Linked DNA regions of Homo sapiens: region 2 is linked to region 1. Evidence: fine-mapped expression QTL. Tissue or cell type: whole blood. Region 1 holds a variant in brackets; the other region holds the start of a gene. All regions are shown on one strand. Distances are from middle to middle.

The links. PIP is the estimated chance that this variant, and not a neighbour inherited with it, causes the effect.
Region 2: it holds the start of NAPB, and the variant in region 1 is fine-mapped to the expression of NAPB in whole blood (TOPMed, PIP above 0.99). The same link has a PIP of 0.9 or more in B cells, monocytes, monocytes after LPS, monocytes after triphosphate RNA and prefrontal cortex.

What each region holds. Positions count from the first base shown.
Region 1 is chr20:23,371,308-23,379,475 of GRCh38, forward strand. GZF1 (GDNF inducible zinc finger protein 1) reads left to right here. Exons shown (of 6, transcript NM_022482.5): 6 at 1-1,755. NAPB (NSF attachment protein beta) reads right to left here. Exons shown (of 11, transcript NM_022080.3): 10 at 8,138-8,168; 11 at 3,215-6,179. The coding sequence ends at 6,069. Among named protein-coding and RNA genes, the nearest start is that of GZF1, 13 kb to the left of the region's middle. The variant C/T (reference allele first, on the strand shown) is at 3,479.
Region 2 is chr20:23,417,075-23,425,242 of GRCh38, forward strand. NAPB (NSF attachment protein beta) reads right to left here and starts at 4,414. Exons shown (of 11, transcript NM_022080.3): 1 at 4,231-4,414. The coding sequence starts at 4,328. RefSeq lists silencers at 3,403-3,632, 4,263-4,352 and an enhancer at 4,603-4,792.

The DNA of each region.
Region 1 (8,168 bases):
TGGCAAATTATAGAACACAGAGTATTATTACTTTTGCCAGGTTTTTCTGACTTGATTTCTGTAATTTCCAGAAACCCAGACTTCTCATTTCCACACCTAGAGATGGAAACAGGCAAGTAACTGACATGTCTATTTCCTTGGGAGCATGTGAGAACATAGCAGTAGGGACCAAAAGTCTCAGCACACTTACCTCCGATTATGCCTTAAAGAGTTGATTGTGAAGAACCAGTAACTTTGTCCCAAATGCTTCTTTGGCTGTTTCATGCAGGACTTAATTATTGCTTTTAAAAATTCACAATGAAAAGACGATTCTGCTGTATTTGTTAAACGTTGACATTTGGTTCTAGGGCCTTGAGTATGTGCCACGTGCTTGTGAAATGCTATGATTCACATGTAACATTTAAACATTAATTTAAAAAGGGAACCTTGGAGAATTCTTTTGTTCACTAGTTCCTTTTTTCTCTACATTTTTAATTTATTAAACTTGCTGTGAAAACACTTTGATTTTCTAAGAGGAAGGTACTTTAAGTTCCAGAATGAACATGTAGCTGCACTATGCCAGAAATTAATGAGGGAAGACTTTCTTCCTAAGTGCTTATGTTTTAACTTATGTTAGTGAAACCACTACAAGGTGTTTCAGGCGCTGATAACATGCTTCACACCTGCCCTTGGAGGTCACAGTACTAATTTACTTCAAATTTAGTTATGACAGTGTCACTGTATCCTAGTTATGTTTACAGCACAAATAAATAATGACTGTCATACATCCAGAGGAGACCGAACCTGCCCAGCTGATGTACTGTTTTATGGAATAAAGTCACTTGATCAGAAGGAATTGAAACAATAGATCATTTTGTTACCTACTGGAGGGATTTTTGTCTTGAATTTGTTTCCTTAGAAATTCTACAAAAAAATGTTGTTAATAAATGTCTGCTTTGTAAAAGCAGTTTTGCAATTTTTTAAAGATCTATTTCTGTTATAATTTAGGTTCTGCAGAAATATGATTCTTAATTGAAACATATAATTTGCTTAATTACGTGAATAATGAAATGTAAAATCCGGGTCCATAAGCCTTTATTTCATACAGTCCTAGGATTAAGCTGTTTAACTGCTTGGATCCCAGTTGGTCTCTGGCAGTGGGATCCTGGAGAGGAGAAATCCTGGCCTCTGCTCATGCGCAGGCCACAACCGGGCTGGAAGTGCGGTTGAGCTCTCTGCCACTTTCTTCAATGTAAAAAGTAGGCATCAAAGATACGACTTCTACTATATACATTTCTCTGTCCCTGAGAACAGAGAAACGTAACCCTGTAGGGGACTGGTTACAGAGGACCTCCTGGAGCATCTGCCCCATTCCTCCAAGTCCAAGCACAGCCATGCTGAGTGGAAGCGAGGCCACCATCTGAGTGGATTGGTCCCAAGTGTGTAATGAGGAAAGTGGCCAGGTGCCGGCACAGTGCCTCTCCCAGAGCCTCAAGAAGGGCCATTTAGGAGCTTGCTTCAACCATTTTCCAACCATTTTCTGTGAAATGCTGTCAGCCCAAACTCCAAAGGGATGTGCAGCCTTTCGTTTTACCAAATTCTTTGCTGTCGTTTGGAAAAAATGGGCCATGTGGTGGAGACCTTTATTTAAGGTGATTTTTACAGAAATGTGATTTTGCTGTAGGTGATTATCCAAACAAGTAAATTTGAGTGTATAATTTAATTTTTAACCTGTTAAATAAACCTTGTCCCTCCAAGGAGTTCATTTTTGGGAAACAAGATGGGTACTTGTCAATTTAACCAAATGTCATGATATTCATGTACTCAGGAGTAACAATATTTCATTTGATGTGACTGAGAAAGGCACACAGGTCAGAGGATCATCTAGCACAGCAGTCCCCAACCTTTTTGGCACCAGGGACCACTTTTGTGGAAGACAATTTTCCCACAGGTGGGGGGACAGAATGGTTTCAGGATGATTCAAGCGCATTGCATTTATTGTGCACTTTCTATTATTATTGCATTGTAATATACAATGAAGTAATTATACAATGCACCATAATGTATAGTGGGAGCCCTGAGCTTGTTTTCCTGCAACTTGACAGTCCCATCTGGGGGTGATGGAAGACAGCAACAGATCATTAGGCATTAGATTCTCATAAAAAGCGTACAACCTAGATCCCGTGCACGCGCAGTTCAATAGGGTTTGCACTCCTATGAGACTCTAATGACACTGCTGATCTGACAGGGTGCACAGCTCAGGTGGTAATGTGAGCCACGGGGAGTGACTGCAAATACAGATGAAGCTTCACTGCCTGCAGCTCACCTCCTGCCGTAAGGCCCAGTTTCTAACGGGTTGGGGACCCCTGATCTATCACATCATGCTAAATGAGACTCAGAAAATCATCTGCATACCTTTGGCAATCCGTACGTGGACTCTTAACTAAGGCTGACAAAACTAAGCTTTTAAACTACCATGGTGGCATCTTCATTAGGAAATTGATTCTGAGAAGAGCCACTTGATTTAGGCTTTGAATGATCAACAACTCAGAATGCCTAGATGAGGACAGCTTGTTCTACCATTTAAAACATTTTGCTTTGACTTACCTGAAGTGTTGTGAATATACTTTAGGACCTGAAATCAAGGCTCTATGATAGGATGGTAGGATGAGCCGGTCTGCACTACCCGCCATGGGTCCTCTTCCTCATCAGAACTTCAGGCCCCAGTGGTCAGTGGGACTGACCCTTCCCCAGGGGCATCTCCTCTCCCTGTGCAGATATTTTGCAAAATTAAAATAAATGCCCACACTGACCAGATAGTTGAGTGGTACTTTCTTGGGGTAGGAGAGTGTCAGGCTTAGGGGTGCCTCACCTCCCCACCAGTCTTCCAGCAACCATGCCTTCCTCAACTTTGCAAGTAACTGTAGACCCTAAAGGATTCAAGGAAGGGATGAGAATGTGGGGTCTGCAGGGTTATCATGTACTTTAGTGGACTGCATCAACAGAAGTTACCAGGGTTTCCTTCTAAACCCTCAGTCTGCAAAACCATTACGGTGCCCTGGAATTCCCAACAAATGACCGGAGCCTAGAGAGTATTAACGTCTGTTGCCTTAATCTTAACGGGAACAACTTGAAACAATGGAAGCTACTTTTGACCTATGCCAATTTAGCAACAAGACTCATCAAAATATTACTGATAATTTCCACTTTATAGGTTAAAATAAAACAAGCATACTTTTTCTGCTAAGGTAGATTTATTGTTACACATGGTTAGTTTTCATAACGTAATCCCCTGCCCCAGAGCAACTCAGGACTCCATGGAGCAGGAAGCCTGCTCTTGGTCATAGCTCATACCACAGCAGGCAGGTCACGGGGGCATGCTGTGCTGCCAAGTCCTCCAAAGGAAGTCACAAAGGTTTGCATTTGGACATTTAAATCCACAAAATCAGGAGAAACAATAAATGCACAAGGGCTGGTGCATATACTTTGGTTACAGTGA[C/T]GCCACCACACACGGTCACGACTGTGCAAAAATACTGCTTTCAAATCATTAAATAAAAAAGAACTCACACAAGCTATAAAAATGTTGCCACAAAAAGCAAAACTTTCCTCTAAGAAATATTAACTGACTTTGACTATGAACTAACTCCAGATTTGCTAAAGTACAAGAATTGTACCATAAATAATTATATTTTGTTCATAAGTAACATTCTATAAATCTTGAAGACCTAGCTCACAGGCATCTTGAAACATGGCACTGTCCTACATCCATGGGACATTTAAAGGAAGTAAGTTTGCACACCACTAACTGGGCTTTTCTCTCATTCTTTTTTTTAATCTTCTGGCAGGTCTCTTCTAGCCATTACAATTACTTTGATTCTTTTCATGTGAAATATTAAAAACAAAAATTAATTCTTAACCCCGGAACTGGTCCCAGTGTTTATTGCAATACAAACAAGTGACCCTCTAATTGACACAACAAAATGTTACAAACATTATTGTTAAAAAAAAATACCCCTTCAGACGGGTCTGTTGGAGTATAATGATGAAAGCTAAACATAATTGCCCGAAAATAAATCATGTAGTTTTTACTTTAAGTGGTCAGACCAGAAGATTCTTTAAACAAGTAGAAACAAACTACTTAAAACCAGAGGACTCAAGCTGCAGAACCACTCCTCACACCCCATTTTCACAAAAGTGCATTTGGCTGGTTGTAGGATATATTATTAGGTGGGGAAACAAAACCCCACTTTTCTCTCTGATCATTTTTTCATAAGAGATTCTAAGAGGGAGTGAAAAAGTACCAACTGGACTCCATTCCAGGTCTTACCTCTAGAAGACAGCCAGCTCTCATTTAAGAATCTCAGAACTTGGAAGGAAGGAGGAAATCCACATTAAATTCTAGGGCCCAACAGACAGAGTGTCTTCATTGCCACCCCCAGTAGTGGGGACTACAGTGCACCTGTAGTCCCAGTAGATGCTCTGACATCACAGAGCTTCCTGCTCTACCAGCCCACCTCATGCATGTCACCACCATAACTATAGCCTGCAAGTCCTCGTGGCCACCTGATGTGGATCCTCTACAGTCTGTCCTTGGCTGGCCCTTCCCACTTCCTTTCCTGCTACTTTCTCTTTCTTCCTAGACTGACCTACTCATCATTTCTCAAACAACCTGCAGTCGACCCTTGGCCTGGAAACACTACCAATTCCAGTTGAGAGCCACCAAAAATGAAAACATCATTCCAATACTACTTACTACTACCTGACATAACATAGGAAGTTTCGTTACCTGTCATCAGTGAAGCTCCGTGATGTCAGAGTGTCTGCTGGGTTAAGTCTGGCAACACATTTCAAATATAAATCATTTAACTATAAATATTCAGAGGACATTCAGGAGACAAGCGTATGTCTAAAGTACAATATCAGCATATAAATTAATAGGATCAAGTTCATGAATCAAGATAGCATACATATATTATATAAACCAATTAAACACGACAGAGTTCAAACACATAAGCCAACATATTCCACCAGCTAAGAGAACAATCAAGTCCCCTGAGAAACAAGTTGGGGTTCTTGCCCACTTGGGCATACAGGACATTCCTGTACCACATTCACCCCACCTAACCCATCATGTACAATAAACAGGAAAATTACATACATTCATTCTCAAGCTTGACTTAGATAATCTATCCAGCCCTGACCAAGATTTCTATAGTCACAGCACAGAACACACCACCTCAACGTGGGAAAGTGTATAAACATGAAAATAATGAGCAGGCTATGCCAATTAAAATACTTCAATGTAAATATAAAGGGATTTCCACTCCAACTAAAAGTGAAAACTATCTCCAGAAAAAGAGAAAAATTCCATTTCTAACAGATCTTGTGATATGTGTGTGTGTGTAAACGCGTGTGTCTAAGTACAAATCAAATTCACTTTGACACTCATCCATACATGAAGCAAGTACTTCCAGAAAGCTCCCTTCCTCACAATGTGATGCCTACAGACCCTGGCTATTCTAAATTTTTGCCATGCACATGTTAGCATACGGAACAACACAAAAAGCAAAGAAACTAGTCACTAGCACCATCAAAATAATCACAGGATAACAAAAATAGAAATGATTTCTAATGAAGTTATAAACTCATTCCTAGTAACTGTCCTAAACTAAACACACATTTAAAGAACATATTCAGATGCCAAAGCACAGAGAAAATGCAAAGCATCTATGAGAACAACTGGGCTGAGTACTCAAGTCCAACAAAAAGGACATAAAAACACGTGGCAACATTAAACATAGGCTCCACAAATACCAATGAAATATGAGGAATGAGATTCTGAAGTACTTCTCAGAAAACGCTGGGGGTTCTGATAAGCATGAAACAACCCATCATTACCACAAGATGAACAGGAGCCTCTCCTTCATTCATTTCACAGCAACACAGACTTGGCGAGCTTAAACAATACACAGGCCGTCTGGCTCATATGCAACAAAATTAAGCCATTAAATAGGCATCCCATAAAGATCACTTGACCCTAAGACAAAACTAAAGAGGAGTTAGCTGCATGCCACAAAGACAAAAACATTTCATTTTAGGTCTCCATCTCCTTCTCCATCCCCTTGGATGGACTTTTTGATGCGAAGCAACATGGTGGTCAGCCACTGATCCAAGCGAGATATTGAGTCAAATTCCTTCACCTAGTATAAGGAAAGAGGAACAGGAATTACCCCATGTAAATACATTAAAAACACAAAATAATAGTACCCCAAGCTGTTTATACCTTTACAGCCATAATCTACTAACTTTCTTCATCATTTGAAATTAATCATTCCAGTTTATAACTTTCTTCATTAAAAAATTGTTTATTTTTTCATTATCCTGTTACTATTTTGATACTAGTGACAAGTTCCTGGGCTTGACATTTCTCTGTTTTCAAACGTGTAAGAAAAAAATTCATTAACAGTCATAATTATTGTGGCAAAAGTAACTGGATATTGTATAAAAATTTGAAAGGAATATGGAAAATTAATACTCACTGAACATGGGAAAACATTAATTACAGAGTTAGAATATGTATGGAAGCGGAATTAACACATTTCAATGCATTACCCAAAAATAAAATTACAATAGGATGAAAATGATGTGGTAGGCAAAAGTCAGACAGGAAAACATTCCTTTCCTCTATCACTCCTGAGCTGTGATGAACATGTTACAGGAGGCTACTGAGAAATTTGCTTGAGGCTGGATGTAGTGGCTCATGCCTGTAATCCTTGAAGTCTGGGAGGCCAAGGCAGGTGGATAGCTTAAGCCCAGGAGTTAAGAGACCAGCCTGGGCAACATGGTGAAACCTTGTCTCAACAAAAAATGCAAAAAAAAAAAAAAAAATTAGCTGGGGGTGGTGGTGTGCACCTGTAGTCCCAGGTACTTAGGAGTCTCAGGTGGGAGGATCACCTGAACCCAGGAGGTTGAGGGTGCAGTGAGCCGTGATCACACCACAGCACTCCAGCCTGAGTGACAGAGTGAGGATCTGTTTCAAAATATATAAAAACATTTTTTTTTGCTTGATTCTAAACATGAGATGGCAAAAGATGGAAAAACAAAAAGTATAAAGAAAAAAACCCTCATATTTTTAATATATATATATATTTATTATTTATTTATTTATTTTTGAGATGGAGTTTCACTCTTGTTGCCCAGGCTGGAATGCAATGGCGTGATCTTGGCTCACTGCAACCTCCACCTCCTGGGTTCAAGAGATTCTCCTGCCTCAGCCTCCCGAGTAGCTGGTATTACAGGCACACTCCACCATGCCTGGCTAATTTTTGTATTTTTAGTAAAGATGGTGTTTTGCCATGTTGGCCAAGCTGGTCTCAAACTCCTGATCTCAGGTGATCCACCCGCCTTGGCCTCCCAAAGTGCTAGGATTATAGGTGTGAGCCACCGTGCCTGGCCACCTTCCATTTATTTCATGCCACAAATACAGCAAATTCTCACTACTTAGTTTTTATATTTTAAATTATATTTAATTTTTTTTTTCTTTTTTTTTTTGAGACAGAGTCTCGCTCTGTCACCAGGCTGGAGTGCAGTGGTGCAATCTCAGCTCACTGCAACCTCTGCCTCCCGGGTTCAAGCGATTCTCCTGCCTCAGCCTCCCGAGTAGCTGGGACTACAGGCGTGTGCCAGCATGCCTGGCTAATTTTTATATTTTTAGTAGAGACGGGGTTTCACCATGTTGGCGAGGATGGTCTCAATTTCCTGACTCATGATCTGCCTGCCTCGGCCTCCGAAAGTGCCAGGATTACAGGTGTGAGACGCCGTGCCTGGCCTTAACTAATTTTACTTTATACTTATTTATGGGTCAGATTATTTTCAAAAGAAAAAATTAAAACAGCAAATTATAAGAATATAAATGGAATATTTGCTCCTGAACTAGTCTCACAGCTAAATTAGTTTTGAGTGTAAGTCGAATCTCAGCATGGCTAATGGAACTGTTTAATTTGTGTGATATATAAAAGGTGACGTTTGGAAAATACAACTTAAGGTATGCTGGAGTCATGTTCAAATAAATGTTTAGAATTCACATAATGAAAAGGAAAAGAAGTTTCTTTAACTTAAATCTTCAAATAATGTACCATGTCCCAAAAGCATAACTTACTGCTTCAGTGTAAGCTTCACTGTTCTGTTCT
Region 2 (8,168 bases), 46 kb after region 1:
CTGGCATTCTTTTTTTTTTTTTTTTTTGAGACGGAGTCTCGCTCGGGGGCCCAGGCTGGAGTGCAGTGGCACAATCTCAGCTCACTACAACCTCCACCTCCAAGGTTCAAGTGATTCTCCTGCCTCAGCCTACCAAGTAGCTGGTATTACAGGCGCCCGCCACCACGCCAGGCTAATTTTTGTATTTTTAGTAGAGACGGGGTTTCATCATGTTGGCTAGGCTGGTCTCAAACTCCTGACCTCAAGTGATCCACCCGCCTCGGCCTCCCAGAGTGCTGGGATTACAGGCGTGAGCCACTGCACCTGGCCTCCACTGTCAGTCTTAAGCACTTTCTTCTATGTGCATTGTGCAGGTTATTCCCAACCGGGTCTCATAGCAACAAGATGGAGGGGATAGTATTATAAGAGGCTTTTCCAATTCAAAACTATCTTAATGTCAGACTCAGGCCGATTTAAAATCATACCAGTAGTTCATTAACATTATAAACTGGAATTTGAAATTAACTACAAAATTCCATAGCTCATCCCTGGCAACAAACTAAAGGACAAGACAACTCCTTTGGAAGTAGTTTTACTAAACGTACTATACTACAAACTTGAGAAAAAGTTTTAATTCCACAACTACAAAAGCACATTACTGCTTAACGGGCAATTAAGCAGAAACACAAACCACCACAACAGTGGTTTCCTGCAATGTTTGCATCCCTTGTCAGCTCTTTTCCTGGGGAGGAAGGTGGGGATGGGAAAGGAATATTGATACCTTACCTATCAAGCAGATAAGGCAGAGGATTTGTGCCTTACACAGAGAAGAAATATTTGACTGACATGTTCTCATAAATACATATGCATATTTTCATCTAATTTTACTGAAAGCAAGAAACAAAAGCTATAGAATACTACTAAGAATACAGTATTGCCACAAAACCACTGTGAGTGGTAAACACTAGAGAACTCATGACAGGCTTTAATCTGCAGATAGAGCATTCAGAATGTCTGTGATGTGAAATATCTGCAATATGCCAAGCAGCTTTTAATGACTGCCACAACCTGAAAACAGATGGCTTATCCTCTTTAAAGCACCAGCTAGTCAGCTCTTAAATATATGAGCTCTGATGATATTCAAGTCAGTATGTGTGTTTTATTAATTTTGTATTACATTAATTCTGGAGTCTGACATAGAGATGGATTACTCTGCGTTTTAAATAAAGGATTACATGCAGACCTTTAGGAATGAAAATGGTGACATTCTATAGCTAAGAAGGCAGGGGCAGGGTGGAATAACATGTATTCCAGTCTAGAAAGGTGATGATACATGCCATCTATAAGGTAGGATTCTAAACATCTAAAATTGATACAGAATCTTAATTGTCCTACTGACACAGGAACACTACGTCTGTTTTCTGGCTTCAGTAATTATACAATATTACTAAACTCCTAAAATTCTAAGTACTCTTCTTCCTGCAAGCTTTCCTGGAGCAAGTATTACTGGAAATAACAGTCTTCAAAGTATAAATCACACTTGCATGGTACATTAATGGTTAAAGCTCTTTCAGATATTTTATTTCATTAAAAGATCAATGAGGCTGGGCGTGCTGGCTCACGTCTGTAATCCCAGCACTTTGGGAGGCCAAGGCAGGTGGATCACGAGGTCAGGCATTCGAGACCAGCCTGGCCAACACAGTGAAACCCCGTCTCTACTAAAAATACAAAAAAAAAAAAAAAATTAGCCGGGCGTGGTGGCGGGTGGCTGTAATCCCAGCTACTCAGGAGACTGAGGCAGGAGAATCGCTTGAACCTGGGAGGCGGAGGTTGCAGTTAGTTGACATCCCGCCACTGCAATCCAGCCCGGGTGACAGTGTGAGACTCCGTCTCAAAAAAAAAAAATCAATGATGCAGTCTACGGCTCTGAAATTCTGGAAAAGTTATCTGTTTGGCCTACTGCTTCTTTGATAAATAACTGGAGCTGATAATTTTGATGAATATGCTAATTAATATCTCATGGTCACTGTCTCCAACATCCATGGTTCCAAATGTTTTATAAACATAACCTCACTGAACTCCCATAAATTTTGAGATATACTATTATTGTCTCCGTTTTATACACTGGAAACTGAAGCACAGAGAGGCTAAGTAACTTGCCCTAGGTCCCAAAGCTAGATAATAAACCAACCTGTTGTACCCAGGTAAGAACTAAGATGCATTAACTTTTGTGTAACTGAGTGTGAATGGTGAAGATTCGTCTTCTTATATGTCCTGTCAATAACATAGGTAGCAACATTTAAAAGGGAGATGTTTCTTTAAAAACAAAGGCTTTTCAAAATCCTTTAAGGATTATAAGCTCAAGATTTGGCCTAGTTTCCTAAAAACATCGAAAACCTCTTTCCCAAAAGGAGTGTTCTCCTGAGACAAGCACCAAGTGCTGTCAAGCTTTTTCCTCTGCCAGTTACAGACTCTCCCACAGGGAAGCACTTCCTGACTTGAAATAATGTTGTAACATTAAAATAACCTCCTGGCATGAGGTACTATGACATTAAATTTTATTAGAGTGAATTTTAAATGTTTTGTGAATCAAAACATTTAAAAGGAGTTAGTGTGGCGCTAGCACTTGATGGTACTGTCATAACTTTTAAATGCAAAACAAAACATAATTCATAGCTATATCTCCTACACATCACATGAGAAATTTAGAAACCAGCTGTGATAAACGTCCTCTGAGAGGTTCCTGAGGACAGGGACCCTTATCTTCTTGCATTTTTGCAGCCTTTATGCATTTCTGCAGTTATGCGTACTGCATGCAACTTGTCCTTAAGCATTTCCTAAAGACGTATCAATAGCGGTAAAGTATTATAATTTATAGCCAAAAGAATGAAGTTGGCAAAACAAGCTAAGAGCCCATTATGTCTGTCTTCTGAAATAGAGTCTGAACTGAATGTGTACAGAAATAAAATCGTGTCTAGTCATGCAATGGGTTAAGTATCTGCTCTTGGTAACAGCAAAGGATCTTTCACTTTCAAAAGAAAACAACGAAACAGGCACACACAAAATTTCTGCCTTTCTCATCCTAAACAGCTGAATCATTCACATATTCAACAGCCCAGAATTCTTCCGGGCTGTCAGTGCGGGCTCTGCTTTTTGAGAGGTTGGAATTTAAAATCCTCCTTAGGAGAGCACGGAAGAATTACAGGAAATTAAAGGGATTCCCAAAGGACGCCTGACTTAAACAGCAGCAGCGTTACCGTTAATCAAACAGGAGGCTCTGGCTATCAATCAATCTCCGGAGAAGGAAAAATACTATGCTGAGAAAATATATTCGTTCATTAGTCAAGTATTTACTAAAGGTGTACTCGGCGCAAGGCCCCTGGAGAGAGGCCAACAAGCACACCAGCTCTGGATCCCTCGCCGGACCGCCCCCTCCCCGGCGGGGCCCACCTGCAGGCGGGACGCCCCCAGGTGCGCGTTCCAGGCGCCGGGGGCGGCCCCCGCACCCACCCCTCCGGCTCCACCCCGGCGCGCCTCACCCGGACCGGTCTCAGGAGCGATACGGGCTTCAGCGTGGCGAAATGCACCAATACGACTCGCTACGCACTGAGAAGGGGGCCCCACGCGCGCCCCGAGCTACCGCGCCCGCGGGCCTCAGGGAGCCGCTGACCTTCTAGGTCGTGGGACCCCCGCACCAACCCGGGCCAGGGCGAGGGGGGCGATCTGGGGTCTCCAGAGGGCGCGTGAGGCTGACAGCCCCCCCCCCAGAGTGTTCTAGGGGCTTCGTGGGGCGCTTGGGGAGCTCTGGGGGTCCTAGGGGTTCTCTGAAAGGCGCGTGGGGGCTGAGGGTCCCTGTGAGACTCTGGGGATTCTAAGGGGGCGTGTTAGGGGATCCGGAGAGCGTGTGGGGGCTGAGGAACCCTGGGGAGTTCTGCCGGCCCTAGGGGGTCTCTAAAGTGCGCGTGGGGGCTGAGAGCCCCTGGGAGGATGCGGGGTTTCCAGGGACCCTGGGGGGGCCTGTGGGGTCTCTGGAGGGCGCGTGCGGACTGAGGGCCCCTGGGCGTCCTGGGGGCTCCAGGGGGCGCTGGGGGACCCTACAGGATTTCTGGAGGGCGCCTGCAGGCTGAGGGCCCCTAGACGTGGTCTGAGGGCCCCAGAGGTTGCGTGGGGGACTCGGGGGGTCAGCCTGAAAGGAAGGGGGCCAAGTACGGAGACCCCCCCCCCCCAGGGCACGCACGGTCTGGCGCTCACCCAAACAGCCCTCGGAGGAAGGAGTGGGAGGCCTTGACTCGCTTCTCGGCCTCCGCCATCAGCTGTACTGCCTCACGCTCCTTCCCCGCGTTGTCCATGTCGCCCGCCGCGGCCGCCACAGCCCCCTCAGCCGGCTCGCTGTGCGCCCAGGCGCCTTAACCCTCCCTCTGGCGGCCGCAGGGACGCAGGCGCAGGCGCGACGCGCGAGGCCTTTCGGGAGCTGTAGTCCGGGTCCTGTCATGGCGGCGGGGATTCGCGAGCCGCCTACTACAGTTCCCAGGAGGCCCCGGGGCGGGGTGTGTGTGAGCCGAGCTTGCGCACCGCTAGCTCCCAGGACGTCGGCGCAGGGGGCGTGACCCCCCCAAAGGGGTCCTGGGCCAAGGTGAACTTTAATTTTGTATGTATGCAGAAATGGAAAAATGATCCGTGGCCTCTAGTAAAGATCACCTCCTCAGTAAGACTCGCATGGCAATGGGATGGATGAAGGAACAGGGGATAACAGATTGGATGGAACCCACACCCTTCATGCAAGTTCTGCAAAAGAGAATCTGGTGTAGCCACCAAAGCATCACATGCTTGATACCGCCCACCAAAAAACGAGCAACAGCTGGCAATAAGAGCCATTTTTATCTCCAAGAGCAAGACGTCCCCAATATAAGTTCAGTTATTTTTAAATCTCCCCAAACTGTAACTTTCTGTTGGTCCTCTCTTCCTTGGTTATAAATGAGTTGCATATATGCAATATATGCATAATCCACTCTTTTGTTGACTGAATTATATTCAATGGATGTGAACCATTGAACTCTTATCCTTTACATAATACTGGCCATAGTGGATGGATCTCCAGGGACAAAATGTTTGCCTGCCAGGAAGACTTCTAATCTCCTAGGAGAAGTATCCATAGATAGATGGGATCCTGTGCCAGAGACTTTCAGGCCTGTCCCAGAGGGAGTTATTTTTGAAGACAATGTCTAGACCATTCAAGCTTGGCAGTGCTAAGGCAGAGATGCTGAAACTAATAAGAAAATCACTGCCAAGTGAGATTTATGACAGTTTCAAACTGTTAATAAATACACTCTGGGCACTGGCATGCAAAATTTTAGAAAATGAAGACTGTCTGTAGAGGGCAAGGCAAGAGGGGCCAAACTCCTAGAAAGAAAGTTGACTAAAGCACATGTCACAGAGTTCATACATTTCAGGACTCCGTAGAGATAGAAAGAAATCTCAGCTCTTCGTGCAGTTTATTTACGATTACTACATGCATTATTCTAACTTTGAAAAGCTGAGCTGTGTGTTTTTGGAGAGAGAAGGAGGCGGGAAATTGGAGGTGACCGTAAATGCAGGGGAGACCAGAGAAAAACTGTAAAAAGTGAACATAAGCATTTGGAAAGCAGAGCAGTCTATGGGGGCTTAATGGAGTGAGGCTAAGTCAAAAGCTCCTAAGTAAATCAGTGTGTTGATTAAATCAGTTGTTCCCTAACGTGGTTCGATGCAGAAGCTCTAATGGATATTTAAGAAATACTGATTCCTAGGCCACTGGGTTTTGGTATCAAGGTCTCTTGCAGCTGGGGTCTAGAAAATGCACATTTTGAAAAGAACTCTCCATCCCTATCCTAAAGCACACAGTTCTAGATTCTCATATCTGTAGTCAGTTGAAAAGGAGCTGGAACAGACTGCCTCCCCGAAGCTAGCACTTGCAATTAAGAGAGACATTTTTGGTGGTTTCTAGTAATTTCCTTCATTCTCTTCTTTGTCACAGGAAATTTGTGGGCACTCCCACCGTTCTGCCAGTCCACACCAAAGTGGGAGAAAACCTTCAAACCTTAATTACTGGGTAGAGCTAGTGTTTTATTCTCCCAAAGGCTGGGGGAGGAAAGGAGGCAGGGCAGAGAGATGAACCTCACAGAATAAGGCCTGACTAGAGAGACAGCTGAGGAATCCTTGAAACAAGAAGGAAAAGGAAAGGAGAAGCACCCCTGGTGTGGATCAGGAGAAGAATAGAAGTCATCTTGGAGAAGAGCCAAAGGACCCACTGCCCACACCTGCGCTGCCCAGGATGGAGCCACTCACCACTGGTGGCTATTTACATTCAAGTTAAATAATATTAAATAAAATGTAAAGTTCCATTTCTTGGCTGTACTAGCCGTATTTCAAGTGCTCAATAGCCACACATAGCCAGTGGCTACTGAAAGAGTTATAAATATAGCATCCTGGTGGATTGACTAAGTTAGACACCTGGTGGATTGACTAAGTTAGATACTTGAGGGCGGTGGCTCACGCCTGTAATCCCAGCACTTTGGGAGGCCAAGGCAAGCGGATCACTTGAGGTGAGTAGTTCAAGACCAACCTGGCCAACACAGTAAAACCCCATCTCTACCAAAAATACAAAATTTACAAAAAATACAAAAATTAGTTAGGTGTCGTGGTGCATGCCTGTAATCCCAGCTACTCAGGAGGCTGAGGCAGGAGAATCACTTGAACCTGAGAGGTGGAACAGAGGTTGCAGTGAGCCGAGATTGCACCATTACACTCCAGCCTGGGCGACAGAGTGAGTGAGACTCTGCTCAAAAAAAAAAAAAAAAGTTAGACACCCAAAAAACGACAGGTGCAAGAAGATTATTTTGACTTTTTCTTTTCTTTTTTGCATACAGAATACACACTGGACACTTTGACCTCTTGTTTCTTTCTTTCTTTTTTTTTTTTTTTTGAGACAGAGTTTCACTCTGTTGCCCAGGCCAGAGTGCAGTGGCTCACTGCAAGTTCCGCCTCCCAGGTTCACGCCATTCTCCTGCCTCAGCCTCCCAAGTAGCTGGGACTACAGGCACCCACCACCACACCCGGCTAATTTTTTGGATTTTTAGTAGAGACGGGGTTTCACTGTGTTAGCCAGCATGGTCTCGATCTCCTGACCTCGTGATCCACCAGCCTCGGCCTCCCAAAGTGCTGGGATTACAGGCGTGAGCCACCGCGCCTGGCCCCAACCTCTTGTTTATTTAAAGGCAAGAGATGAAATTCCCATATGAAAGATGTCCCTCTTATACTAGAACTAAAGCAACATTCTTATCATCAAAGACAGGAAGTTGAGGCTAAGAGAATTCTGTACAAACCCTATTAAACTAACCCTTATCTTCTTAGTCACTTTTCTATCCAATTAACTACCCTAGCCCAAGCCCCTCTGCCTCATCACATTTTCAGTTTACTATTCTTTGTCCAATTCAGTAAATAAGTAACACACTCTAACTGCCTCTTTGGGTTTTCATTTCCTTATGAGGCCTCCCATGCCATGTAAAACTTGTATCAAATACACCTGTGTGCTTTCCTGCTATTAACTTGTCTTATGTAAGTTTAATTTTCAGACTCCACCAGGAGCCTGAGATGCCCCCCTACACTACTATATGGACTGCACAGACAGAGAACAATTTTATCATTCCACAAGTCCTAGTGGATGGCACTAGCCTCTATGTGCTTTGCTTTTCAGAAGTTCTGGACACTTGTAAGAAAAGAAGAAAAAGGCTTCAGGGAGTTTCTGAGAAGGCAGAGCAGGAAAGGAGCGTAGCCTGAACAAGGCAGAGCCAACAGTACTGCTGGCTTTTCCCTGTGAGAAGATGGAGGTGGACACCTGGACACTCAGACTGAATCAGCACATACCCCGAAAGATGATCCATCAAGACAGGGCTGAAGCTACTTGAGAACCCCAATACTAAGAAAGCCAGAGTCAGAAAAGAACAGAATCGATATGGGGAAAGGGTGTAGCCATCTGTGTGTGTTCACAGAAGGGGAGAAAGCACCAGGCAAAGATCCAGTATGGAAAATTATGGGACATCACTGCTGCTTCACTGAAGCAAAGCAAGAAGGCTCACCCACATTAAAGGGGAGGGAAATGAGACGACATCTCCTGATGGGAGGGCCTCTGAGGATTTGCAGATGTTTTCACACCA